3 linked regions of the Homo sapiens genome follow. The protein of the gene in region 2 interacts with the protein of the main gene of each other region in a pairwise test. Each region holds a gene or a part of one and is shown on either strand. Other genes may lie near its edges.

The links.
Region 1: the proteins of BOD1L2 (region 2) and CRX interact in binary tests that used the Homo sapiens proteins (3 or more experiments, as listed by UniProt).
Region 3: the proteins of BOD1L2 (region 2) and LHX4 interact in binary tests that used the Homo sapiens proteins (3 or more experiments, as listed by UniProt).

What each region holds. Positions count from the first base shown.
Region 1 is NC_000019.10:47,835,302-47,838,952, reverse strand, and holds part of CRX (cone-rod homeobox protein), read right to left. Parts: intron 2,711-3,651; coding exon 2,559-2,710; intron 1-2,558. UniProt on the Homo sapiens protein: Transcription factor that binds and transactivates the sequence 5'-TAATC[CA]-3' which is found upstream of several photoreceptor-specific genes, including the opsin genes.
Region 2 is NC_000018.10:57,145,522-57,149,908, reverse strand, and holds the start of BOD1L2 (biorientation of chromosomes in cell division protein 1-like 2), read right to left. Parts: upstream 2,823-4,387; 5' UTR 2,597-2,822; coding exon 2,078-2,596; 3' UTR 1-2,077. UniProt on the Homo sapiens protein: May play a role in proper chromosome biorientation through the detection or correction of syntelic attachments in mitotic spindles.
Region 3 is NC_000001.11:180,233,172-180,236,822, forward strand, and holds part of LHX4 (LIM/homeobox protein Lhx4), read left to right. Parts: intron 1-3,651. UniProt on the Homo sapiens protein: May play a critical role in the development of respiratory control mechanisms and in the normal growth and maturation of the lung. Binds preferentially to methylated DNA.

The sequences.
Region 1 (3,651 bases), on a different chromosome or scaffold from region 2:
GCACACGTACAGTTATACATATATACACCATACGCACATATATCATGCATACATTTACCCATCTATATGATCATACGTACATCATACACATTTTCATCCATCCATCTAATACAAACATGCACACATACAATTATACATACATACACCATACACACATACATCATGCCTGCATTTACCCATCTATATGATCATACATACATCATACACATATTCATCCACCCATCTAATACAAACATGCACACATACAATTATACATACATACACCATACGCACATACATCATGCATACGTTTACCCATCTATCTGATCATACATACATACATCATACACATATACATCATACATACATTCACTGGCTCATCTGATCATACATGCAAGTGTACATGCATCATACACGCATACATCATACATGCATTAATGGAGCCATCTGATCATACATATATACATCATACACATTCATCCATCCATCTGATCATACAAACATACAATTATACATACATACATTGTACACACATACATCATACATATATACACATTAATCCATACATACAATCATGCAGACACACATTTCATTTATCCATCTAATTATATATACATGCGTACACTCATATATACACAAATAAACCCATCCAGTCATCCAATCATGCATGTATGCGTACATACATGATACCTACAGGCATTTATCCATCTAATGCAAACATACATACAATTATACATGCATACACCATACACACATGCATCATGCATACATTTATCCAGCTATCTGATCATACATACATCATATACATATTCATCCATCTGATCATACAGACATACAAACATACAATTATAGGCACATACATTGTACACACATACAGCATACATAGCTACACACTAATCTATCTAATCATATGTGCATACAATCACACAAACATACATATTTCATTTATCCTTCCAATCATACACACGTGTGTATGCACATATATGTAACATCATACCTACAGCATACAAACATACACGCATACAATTATACATACATACACCATACACACATACATTATGTAGACATCCATCTGATCATATATACATACCTCACACATATATATGTCATACACACATTCACCAGTCCATCTGATCATACATACATCATACATAGACTTATCCATCTGATGATACATACAATTGTACACACATACATCATACATAGATTCATCCATCTTATACATATAATTATATAAACATAGGTCATACACACATACATCATACATGCATTAATGGATCTATCTAATCATACATACATCATATGCATGTTCATCCATCCATCTGATTATACAAACATACAAATATACAATTATACACCCATACATCATACACACATACATCATGCATACATATACATTAATCCATCCAGTCATACCTATATACAATCATACTAACACACACATTTTATTTATCAGTCCAATCATATATACATGCATACACTCATATATACATAAATACACCCATCCGGCCGGGCGCGGTGGCTCACGCCTGTAATCCCAGCGCTCTGGAAGGCCGAGGCAGTAGGATTGCCTGAGGTCAGGAGTTTGAGACCAGCCTGGCCAACATGGTGAAACCCCATCTCTACTAAAAATACAAAAATTAGCCCGGTGTGGTGGCACACGCCTGTAATCCCAGCTACACAGGAGGCTGAGGCAGGAGAATCACTTGAACCCAGGAGGCGGAGGTTGCAGTGAGCCAAGATCATGCCACTGCACTCCAGCCTGGGCGACAGAGCGAGACTCCATTTCAAATAAATAAATATACCCATCCATCCAATCATGCAAGCATGTATACATACATGTGCACATACACCACGTATACATATATCATGCATGCATACATTCATCATCTATCTAATCATACCTATGTGCGTTCATGCAAACACACATATATACATGTATCCATCCCATCATACACACAGACACTCATATATACACATACATACACTCATCCATGCTTCCAGTCATACATGCACACGCACACCTACAGTCACACATACATACATTCATCTATGCATCCACCCACCCATCCATCCATCCGTCTATTCAGTCAGTTAATAAACATGTATTAACCATTTTCTACTACTCTGAGTGTCCGTCAGTGGAATTGACATTCTAGTTGGGAGAGACAGAGTCTAAATAAACAGACTCTGAGATACCATATGTAAATCATATGCAATTTTAAATGCTGTGTTCAGTGTGGGTCTCACTGATGGATAAGCAAAGACTCGAACAAGGCGATGGGGCCTGCTGTGTGGTTATCTGGAAATAAGCATTCCAGATAGAGGAAACTGAGTGCAAAGGCCCAAGGCAGGAGGGTGCTTGGCAGGCAGGTCAGGGCCAGCGCAGCTGGAGAGGAGCGAGGGGCAATGAGAGCCATGAGGCGGTCAGTGGGATGGTGGGGAGAGGGATTATTGTCCCCTTTATAACTTTGGCTGTCACTCTGTGATCTCTCCCTCCTCCCATCACTCTTTGTTCCGGGCAGGCCTCCTGAGATCACAGGAAGTGTCGGGAGGGGTCCAGGGACCCACCACCCCACCTGAACCCTGGACTCAGGCAGATTGATCTTCAGAGCCACCTCCTCACGGGCATAGACGTCTGGGTACTGGGTCTTGGCAAACAGTGCCTCCAGCTCCTCCAGTTGGCTCCGGGTGAAGGTGGTGCGCTCCCGCCGCTGCTTCCTGGGGGCGCCTGGGGTGGGATGGGAAACAGGACCCTCAGGTCATCCACATGGGCTGGTGTGAGGCCCTGAGGCTGGGTGGGATGCCAAGAATTCCATCCTGGTTGCCATCTGCCTAAACTAAGGATGGAATACACATTCCCTGCCCTTCTACACCTCACTGTGTGCCTGGCACTCTGTGGCTCATGCCTGACCCCAAGGCTTTAGCTCAACAAGGAGGTGTGCGAGTCGTTTTTCCCTCTTCTAAACTTTCTTATGCACTAAGACATAATCAGTTGAAGCATGACATTGCTGACATTCAACCGTTTCTAGCCTATAAAAGTAGCAAGTCTGGGCTGGGTGCGGTGGCTCACGCCTATAATCCCAGCACTTTGGGAGGCTGAGGCAGGCAGATCACAAGGTCAAGAAATTGAGACTATCCTGGCCAACATGGGGAACCCCTGTCTCTACTAAAAATACAAAAAATTAGCCAGGTGTGGTGGTGCATGCCTGTAGTCCCAGCTACTCGGGAGGCTGAGGGAGGAGAATCGCTTGAACCCAGAAGGCAGAGGTTGCAGTGAGCCAAGATTATGCCACTGCACTCCAGCCTGGTAACAGAACAAGGCTCGGTCTTGAAAAAAAAAAAAAAAAAAACAAGAGCTAAAGAATAATGCTACAAATAACTGAGTACTCACTTCTCTTAAAAATAAGGCTTTACAAAAATTGGCCGGGCATGGTGGTGTGCGCCTGTAATCCCAGCTACTTGGGAGGCTGAGGCAGGAGAATCACTTGAACCTGGGAGGCAAAAGTTGCAAAGAGCCAAGATCGCGCCATTGCACTCCAGCCTGGGCAGGAGCGAAACTCCGTCTAAACTGTGTCTCGAAAGAAAAAAAAAGAAAAAGAAATAAGGCTTTGCAGGCCAGGTGCAGTGGCTCATGCCTGTAATCCCAGCACTTTGGGAGGCTGAGTCAGG
Region 2 (4,387 bases):
AAAAAGAAGAAGGAGAACAAACCCCAAACCAAAAATCACTTCCGCAACACATTTCTTAAAAGCAGAAATTAGGTTCCTTTTATGTTAGTGCAAAGATAGGTGCCAAGCTGGGGTCTCAGATGGAGTGATTTTAAATCTCAGAAAGAGCTTAGCTGTTTTTGTAAAAAGGAAAGTTGGCAAGTGATTAGTGCCGATGTGGCCCAGCTGCTCTTTTGTACTTCGAAAGAAACAATTAAAATGGCTGGGACATTAAACTTTAAAGAGCTGGGTTGTTCATATTCAGAAGCTAATTTTAAAAAGAGCCTGGTACCTGGGAAAGGAAGGGACATTTTCAGAAAGGACATGGTCTTCTACCTTCTGGACTCTAAATTTTGAAGAATCATTTAAAATAGCTCATAGGTAAACATTACAGATAAAATACCTCCAGGGATAAGAAAGCTCTTTCTTGCTTAGACATGTAGACACTAGATGCAAAATTAATTTTTGTTCACTTTTTAGATGATAAATACTGCCATCTGAGAAATTAAATGTTGGAAAAGACAAATCCAGAACTGGTTTCTTTCTACAAATTGCTGAGCTCCTGTGATGTGCTAGGTCCTGGGGTTAAGGAAAAGAAATGAACAAAGCAAATCCCTGCCCTGGAGGAAGCTCACATTTAAGTGGGGATGACAGATCTGTAAGCAAAGACAGTTCACTGTGGTGAGGTGGTGTGGCTAAAAGCATGGTTAAAAGGGTTAAAAGTGAGGGCTCTGTGCTCAATACAGGCTCAGCCCCAGCCCCACCACTTAGGCAGTGTCTGAGCTTTGGTTTCTACATTTATAAATGGGAATAAAAATGGGAATAAAGATACGATTTCTTCAATTAGATCATGAGGACTTACTACGGTAAGCGAAGTTAAGCGTTTAGTACACTGCCAGCTGTAGAGCAATAGAGCAAGTGCTTCGTCAGACCTAGCTACTATAGTAAGTGTGGTCATCCCTTATGAGATCTATGGGAGCACAGAGGAAGGAGTCTGTCACTCCTGCTTAGACGATGTGTGGCTCCTCAGGAGCTGAGTCTTAAAGGAGGGTAGGAGTGGTTGAGGGCATTCCCTTCACAGTGAGCAGAGGGAACACAGGGTGTCCAGGATAGTCATGGGCATGGTTGTCATATGAGAAATGACAGTGTACGGGGCAGCAGAGGTGACCAGGGGCCCCATTATCACGGGCCTCATAAACCATGCCAGGTGTCTGACCTTCTAGAAATATCAGAAAACTGACGGAGCTTAAAGAGGAAAAGGATGTAAATCTGCATTTCTTTTTTGTTGTTGCAGTTGAAAGATAAGCCATTTATTGACCATCCACTTTTCAAATAAAACACAAATGTGAGCATAACATAAACACACCCAAGACTCACTAGCCCCTGCAAGACAGGAAGCATTCTTGGACAGAGAGTCTGCAAATGAGTTTCCTTATACCTAATGTCTGAACTTCTCACTCATTCTAGGGTTTCATGCTTTGTTATCTCTTACAAAGGAAAGGAAACTGGCTAGAAGATTCATGTACAAGAAGGTCACAACTTCAAAGCTATCTGACACTAATGTTGTGTACAATCTAGTTTGCAACTCTGAGAGACAATATCAAATAAGTACTGTCAAATATTCCTCCCAGTTAACCTTTACTGTCATTGTTCTTTGAAATTGTCTTTGGGATTGGTTATGTTCTCTCGCTGTAGCTTTCGTTTATCTCAGAGCACAAACCCTAAAATCCATGTGCAGTCTCCATGTTCAAGTATAGATGTCTGTTTCAGGACAATCCTGGGTCGCGGTAGTGTTTCCCTCTCTGTAGTGTGTGTTTGGTGTCATGCCCTTGGAAAGGCTGGCCAAATGGCAGCGCAATGCAGGAGGGTGCCACGGTCAACTTTCTCTCTGGCGAACTTGCTTCCCTTTCAATCTGGTCACTGCTCATGGTCGAGGTGGAAATCTTGAGCTCAGTGATGAACTTGGCTTATCTTCAATCTGAAACTGCACTCTTATGTAACCGAATCCATTTCTTCACCAAAAATTAAATAGCGCTTTCAAAAGCTGTCAGGCATATTCTTAGGAAGTGTCCTGAGACGGAGCTGGAGGGTCCTGGCCTTCTGGCTCTGGAGGGAGTGCTGGCACAGCTGCTTCTTTCTGGGCCACCAGGAATTCATGAATTATTTGTTCTATTTGTGGCCTGAAGATGTGGTTTAGTTTTGGATCCACCACCTGAGAACTAATCCTGTCCACTCCAGCTTCTGACCTCCCTGACTGAACCACACTCTGCCTCAGACCATCGTGCAGTTGGTTGTCGTTTGCTGGAGGATTCCATTCCTGCTTGTCCAGATGTGTCGACACAAAATTATCCGCTTTCTGGCTCAGGTTTTGGTAAGCTGGCTTGGTGTCCACGTCAGCCTTGCAGTCCCGGCGGAAGCTGTCAAAAAGGCCCCTGCTCTTGAGCTGCCCCACGATGATAGCGATGAGCTGAGGGTCGCCAGGGGGCAACGAGGCCGGGTTGATGGGGCCGCCGCCCCCGCTGGCCCGGGTCGAGGCCGGGCCCGCACCGCCGCTGCCGCCGCCGCCACCGTCCGCCATGGCTGCGCACCGGGCCCACAAGGAAACCGATTATAGCTTCTTCTCCAGGACAGAAAGCCTAGAATGTGTAGAGGTGGCTAAGGGGGCGGTGAAGGAGGAGGGCCCCAAGGAGGCAGCGGCGGAGGTGACGGTGGTGGTGATGGCGGCGGGGCCGGTGGTTGGGGCGGCGGTGGGGGAGGCCAGCTCCAGACCGCGGAGGTTGTGGAAGACGCGGCAGCAACCGCCTGCTGGATTCCAAGCGCGCTCCAGATGGCGTCACCGTTGACCTTTGCATTGTGAGGCGGGAACCGTAATCTGCATTTCTTAAAAGATCTCTAAGAGGGAGGTGGGAAACAAATGCCAGTGGGCAAGGGCGAAACAGGGAGACAATTTCAGCAACCATTTCAGTGCCCTAAGAAGGAGATGGCGAGGAGTGAATGATCTTCGTGGCCTGGCAGGTGAAGAAGGTAACAGGGATACAAGAGATATTTAGGAGATAGACTCATCCCAGGGATTGGAGAACAACGGGGTGAGGGACGAGGGAAAGGAGAGGGTCAAGGATGACCCCCAGGCTTCTCACTTGGGCAGGTGCATGGAGGTGCCATTTACTAAATGGAGAACAGGTATAGAGGTGAGGATGGGAGACAGAGACATGATCGTGCATTCCATTTTTATTTACTAGTTTAAGATGGGTATGGGTTATTCAGATGCAGACATCTGCCTATGAAGTCCAAAGATACAAGGACTAGGGGCTGGGGAGAGACATCTAACTCACTGAAGGTAGAGACTATAGGTGGCAATTACAATGGAGAACTTAGAAGAGATAGAGGAACACCTGGAGAGCCCATGAGGGGGACTGAGAACAACACTAAAAAGATGGAGGGAAAACTACAAAAGCCTTGGATCATAGACCGCAAAAGGTACATTTCATGAAGGCCATGGGTGAAATGCCACACTATGTTCCACAAGGTGTCCATTGGCTTTGGTAGCCATTGATGAGCCTAGGGCAGATGTGTCAGTCAGAAGGAGGTCATTTCAACAAGAGAACTGTATTGCAACCAAGAGCCACAAAAGGCAACCACATCCAGCGCCATCCAATAGAGAAGTGCAGGTGCACAGAAAGAACCTTCTATCAATATTTCAAAAGAAAAGCAGATCCCTGATTTCACCCCAACACTCACTTCCCTGAATTAAAATGCCCCTGAGATGTAGACACCACATTGTTCTATAAGCCGTAACATAGCTTAAAGGTAGTATATTTCACAAAGAAAGTTTACACAACAGACTCTGTCAATAACCTCACCCCATAGCTTCTGACATACAAGTACAGATGCCTCAGATGGACGTATTCTGAATCTCATCCCACAGGAGACAGTGAACCTACCAAGACTTCACCACAGCAACCCCCTACCTATGCTCCTCACCATCCCCATGATCAGCTCGACAATTCAGTTCTGTATTTTTTTAAATTAATCAATATTTATTGAGGGACTAGTCGATGTGGCCCTGTGCTAAGCTTTATGGAGCTCTCCACGTGCCTGGCCCAGTCTAACACTCAATAAATGTTTGCTGTGGCTGTTGTTTAAGACAGGCAACATGGCCAGCCTTTGAAAAGCTTACAATCTAGTTGGAGAGGGGAGATGTTGACAGAGAAAACCATTGAGGACATACACAAGCTCCATGGGAACTTAGATGCAACATGCACACCTAGCATGGTGCCTGGAACAAAAGAGAGGCACCATTAATATTTGCAGAATAAAGATTGCATAGATGAAAGGAGGGTGTCCCTGTCATGTGTTGGAGAACACTGAA
Region 3 (3,651 bases), on a different chromosome or scaffold from region 2:
CTTTAGGAAAACGTTTCCAAATGATGTAATAATTTCTCTCTCATCTCTGGTCTTGCTCCAGACTTGGCCTCTTCCTCGCCACTCTGTCCCGGCCTCCCGCCCCCGCAGGCTCCCGTGCGGACTTAGCAGTTCGCGCCGTAGCCCTCCTGGTTTTTTACCGCGCCTTGGTCGCGCGGCCCCCGGTGCGGGCCTCGTCGCTCCGACAGCCCTACAGCTGTCCCTACGGCCCGCACCGACAGCTCGTCCCCGCCACCTCCCTCCGGGCTGTAGGGACGTCGAGATCCGAATCCTCACAGCGCCTGACCCGGGGCCGTGTTGGGTACGGGTACGGCGAGAGCCTTCCGAGCCGCCTCCAAAACTCTCCCCGCGGACCTCAGCAGTCCCTCCACGCGTCGGGGCCCTGCTGGCCGGCCATGCCCTCTGAGGAGACGCGGAAAAGAGCGAGGCATATAGGAAGGTGGGGCGTTTTATCCGCCTCGGTTTTGACCCATCTGCCATGTAGTCTCCCCAGGCACCGAGGGAAAGGACGACGGAAGCCCGCCGCCCGGATCGCTGGCGGGAGAGAGGGCAGCCCGCACGGGAGAAGGAGGAGCCCCGCGGGGTCTCCGCTGGGGGTGGTAATTGGAATGCAGGCCTGGGGGTCTCTGTCCCCCTCCTTGTCTCCTAAAATGCTTCCGGCAAGCTCTGGCGAACCCCGAAGCTGTAGGAAAAAGGTATTTTATTTTGTGTTTGGTAGGGTCGGGGTAAAGGTTTTCCCTGGGACTTCCTCTCCTGGGGCTCCTCCGGGGTGCGTGGGGTAATGTCCCAGCGCAGGTCGAGTTGCAGATCCGAGTCCCCGGGGTTGTTGACTGTCCTTCTTGCAGGACATTTCTTAAGGGGGTGAGATGGATTCACTGTCCAAGACAGGAGTTCACTCAAACGCTGGTGCTGTTCGCTCTTCTTTCCATTCCTGCCTTGTCTCCTAGTGCGAGAAACAGACACACACAACACACACAAATTATATATATATATATATATATATATATATATATATATATATATATATATATAATAGATTGAGATTCTATCATATTCCGAACATTCCGATATAGCAGCTGTAGGCACCATAGACCTCCCTCCCTGCGTCGCGAGAATATATTCTCAGGCAGGAGACAATTTTTACAGATGAGGTCAGCTGTCCCCGCCGGCCGATTCGGGCCTGATGGGTTGGGGGTTCCGATGTCCTAACTGCTAGGATCCCGTTCCAGCCCCTGGCCAGAGCTGTGTACCACAAAGAAGGGAGTTTGGAGAAACCCGGGTAAGCGCGGCAGCGCCCCGCTTGGGACAGCGGATGGCTGAGGACTCCCAAGGGGCGAGAGGGCTCCGGCCTCCTCCTTTCCAGGGCCTTGTTATCTGAGAGGGCCGTTAGCACGGAGGGAAGCTTGGAAAGCCGCTGTCCCAGTGCGCTCCGCATGCGGAATTAACTGTTAAAGCCGGACACGGAGCACGCAGGTGCAGCAGGTGAGGGGCAAAGGTCTGCATTGAGCAGTCCGCAGTGTCCCGGGAAGTCGTAAAGTCGGGACTGAGAAGAAGCAGGACCTAACTCAAGTTTATTTCCTCTCTTGGCCGAGGTCCGGGCTCGTGGAAAACCAGAGCTAGGCGGGGCTACGCAGGGCTGAGCAGGAGTGGCGTCCTAGGGTCTGGGAGCGCGACCCACATGACCTCGCTACGACCGGGGCAGGGCTCCTCCGCCCCGCGGGCAGATGCCGGCCTGGGTGGCCCGGGGAACAGACGATGAATTCTTTAAATGAGCGTTTGCTGCGCACCCATGGGCGGCTCACGATCCTGGGCACTCGCCCGGGAATCCCGGGCGTGCTCTGGGTTTTGGGGGACTCGCCGGTGGAGGTAGATGTGGACAGGGCGGCCGGCCCTTCGCGGGTAGCCGGCTTTGCGCTTACTGCGTCCCGCAGCGGTGGGTAAAGGTCGTAGCCCAGAAGGGGACAAGGGAGGGACCGCCTCTCTCTCCCCGGTGCGCTGCAATAGAGGTTCCTGCGCCTTGGCCCTTGCAGTCCATCCGCCCAGAGGTTCGCGCCCGTTTTCGGAGCTTATTATCTCAGGTAGCCCAGAGGTCCGACTGAGCTGGAATTAGCCAGGCCTGGGACCCCTTTGCTGCCCTTTAGAGTGGTGGCAGGGACTTTTCCAGCAAGGATAGGCGCGGCAGGCGCGAGTGCGGACGGCGCGCCCATTAGGAGGAGGCCGGGTGAAAACCTCTCTTCCTCTCCAGACCCATTTCGTTCCAAGCATTTGGAATGACAAAATTAAACCCCAACCCTGGCGGCTCGAGTCTAATGTGACTGTTTAACCCTGGGAAAGCGATGCTCCCATTTTCGAAGGGGCTCCTCCTCTTCGGAGCGGGGAGGCCGCCGGCGGGTGTGCCCGGCCCGCGCGTTCTGCGGGTGTTCGAGCCTCGGCTCCCCACTCGGTTCCGCAGCTTAGTGGACCTTGACGAGCGCTGGAAACGTGTCAGGCTCCAGAGAGACAGAGTCTCTACCTAGGCGGCTGAGGATGTCAATTAAAATCGACCAGGGAAGGGAGTTGGCGGCACTGTGCGCCGCCGGGGAAGGCGAGGTGGCGCGGGCCACCGGGTGCACTCACCGCACGAGAGGCCGCGGCTGGACTGGGACCGAGCGCATCCCTGTGTCTCAGGGGGTTTGCTTTGTGCAGGATGGGACCTTATTATTTTTAGACAGTGGGGCAAACGTGTCTTTTAAAGAGATCCGAAGGGTGAAACTAATGAAAAAGGAAATGAATTACTAGAAAAGCCGTGAAGGGATAAAACCGGGAGCAGCAGGAAGTTGAAGGAAGGACGACCGAAGCTAGGTGTATCTGCACCTGCCTCTTGACACGCCAAAAACAAAGGGGGGTTAAGGCAAGAATGTAGACTAAATGCTGTGAGGATTAGGGTAACGCGAGCCCTCAAGACGTCTCGGAGACCGCCTACAGGGCTGCAAATACCAGGGTCCATTTTTAAAAATCGAGTGCTCCTAGAGGTGGGGTGGGGGTGGGAGAGCCGGGAAACCAGCAAAGCAATTTCTTTCCATTGAGTAGACAAAAACTTGGGCCACAGGGGCATCTTGTATTTTGAACAGTGACCCGATGACCCCGCTGGCCAGGTGTAGACAGCCTCAAGTCCTAAATATTTGCATTGTCCTAACTTCCCAGTTGCCTCGGATTTTAATGCCCTTTCACTCTGCGTTACAGTCAATTAGTGATTACTTAGCATCCACATTAGTAGACTGAAGCCAGAGACCCCAGTGCTGGGAGGAGAGGAGGAGCCGGGGGAAGGAGGATGGGGCTTGCAGTCCTGCAGGGATGGAAAATTAGTTAACAGGAATTAACTGTTCTTTCTATTACCTTGTTATGAAATCTGCTTTGAGCTTCTTGTTTTGGACGGGAATGGTGGGTATTTAGTGGATTTCTCTGGCTGGGAAACTTGTGTCCTCTTCCTATTGAAGAGTTGTGGATGGGGGGCGGGTAGGTGGAATCGGATAAAGGGACCTTGTGCCTTTTCTTTCAATTAAGGAAATTTTTCAGGAATAGAGCTGAGGAGCTTTGGGACGCATAGGGACTTGGAACCAGTTTAGCTGAAGAGAGGACAAAAGGAGTAATATT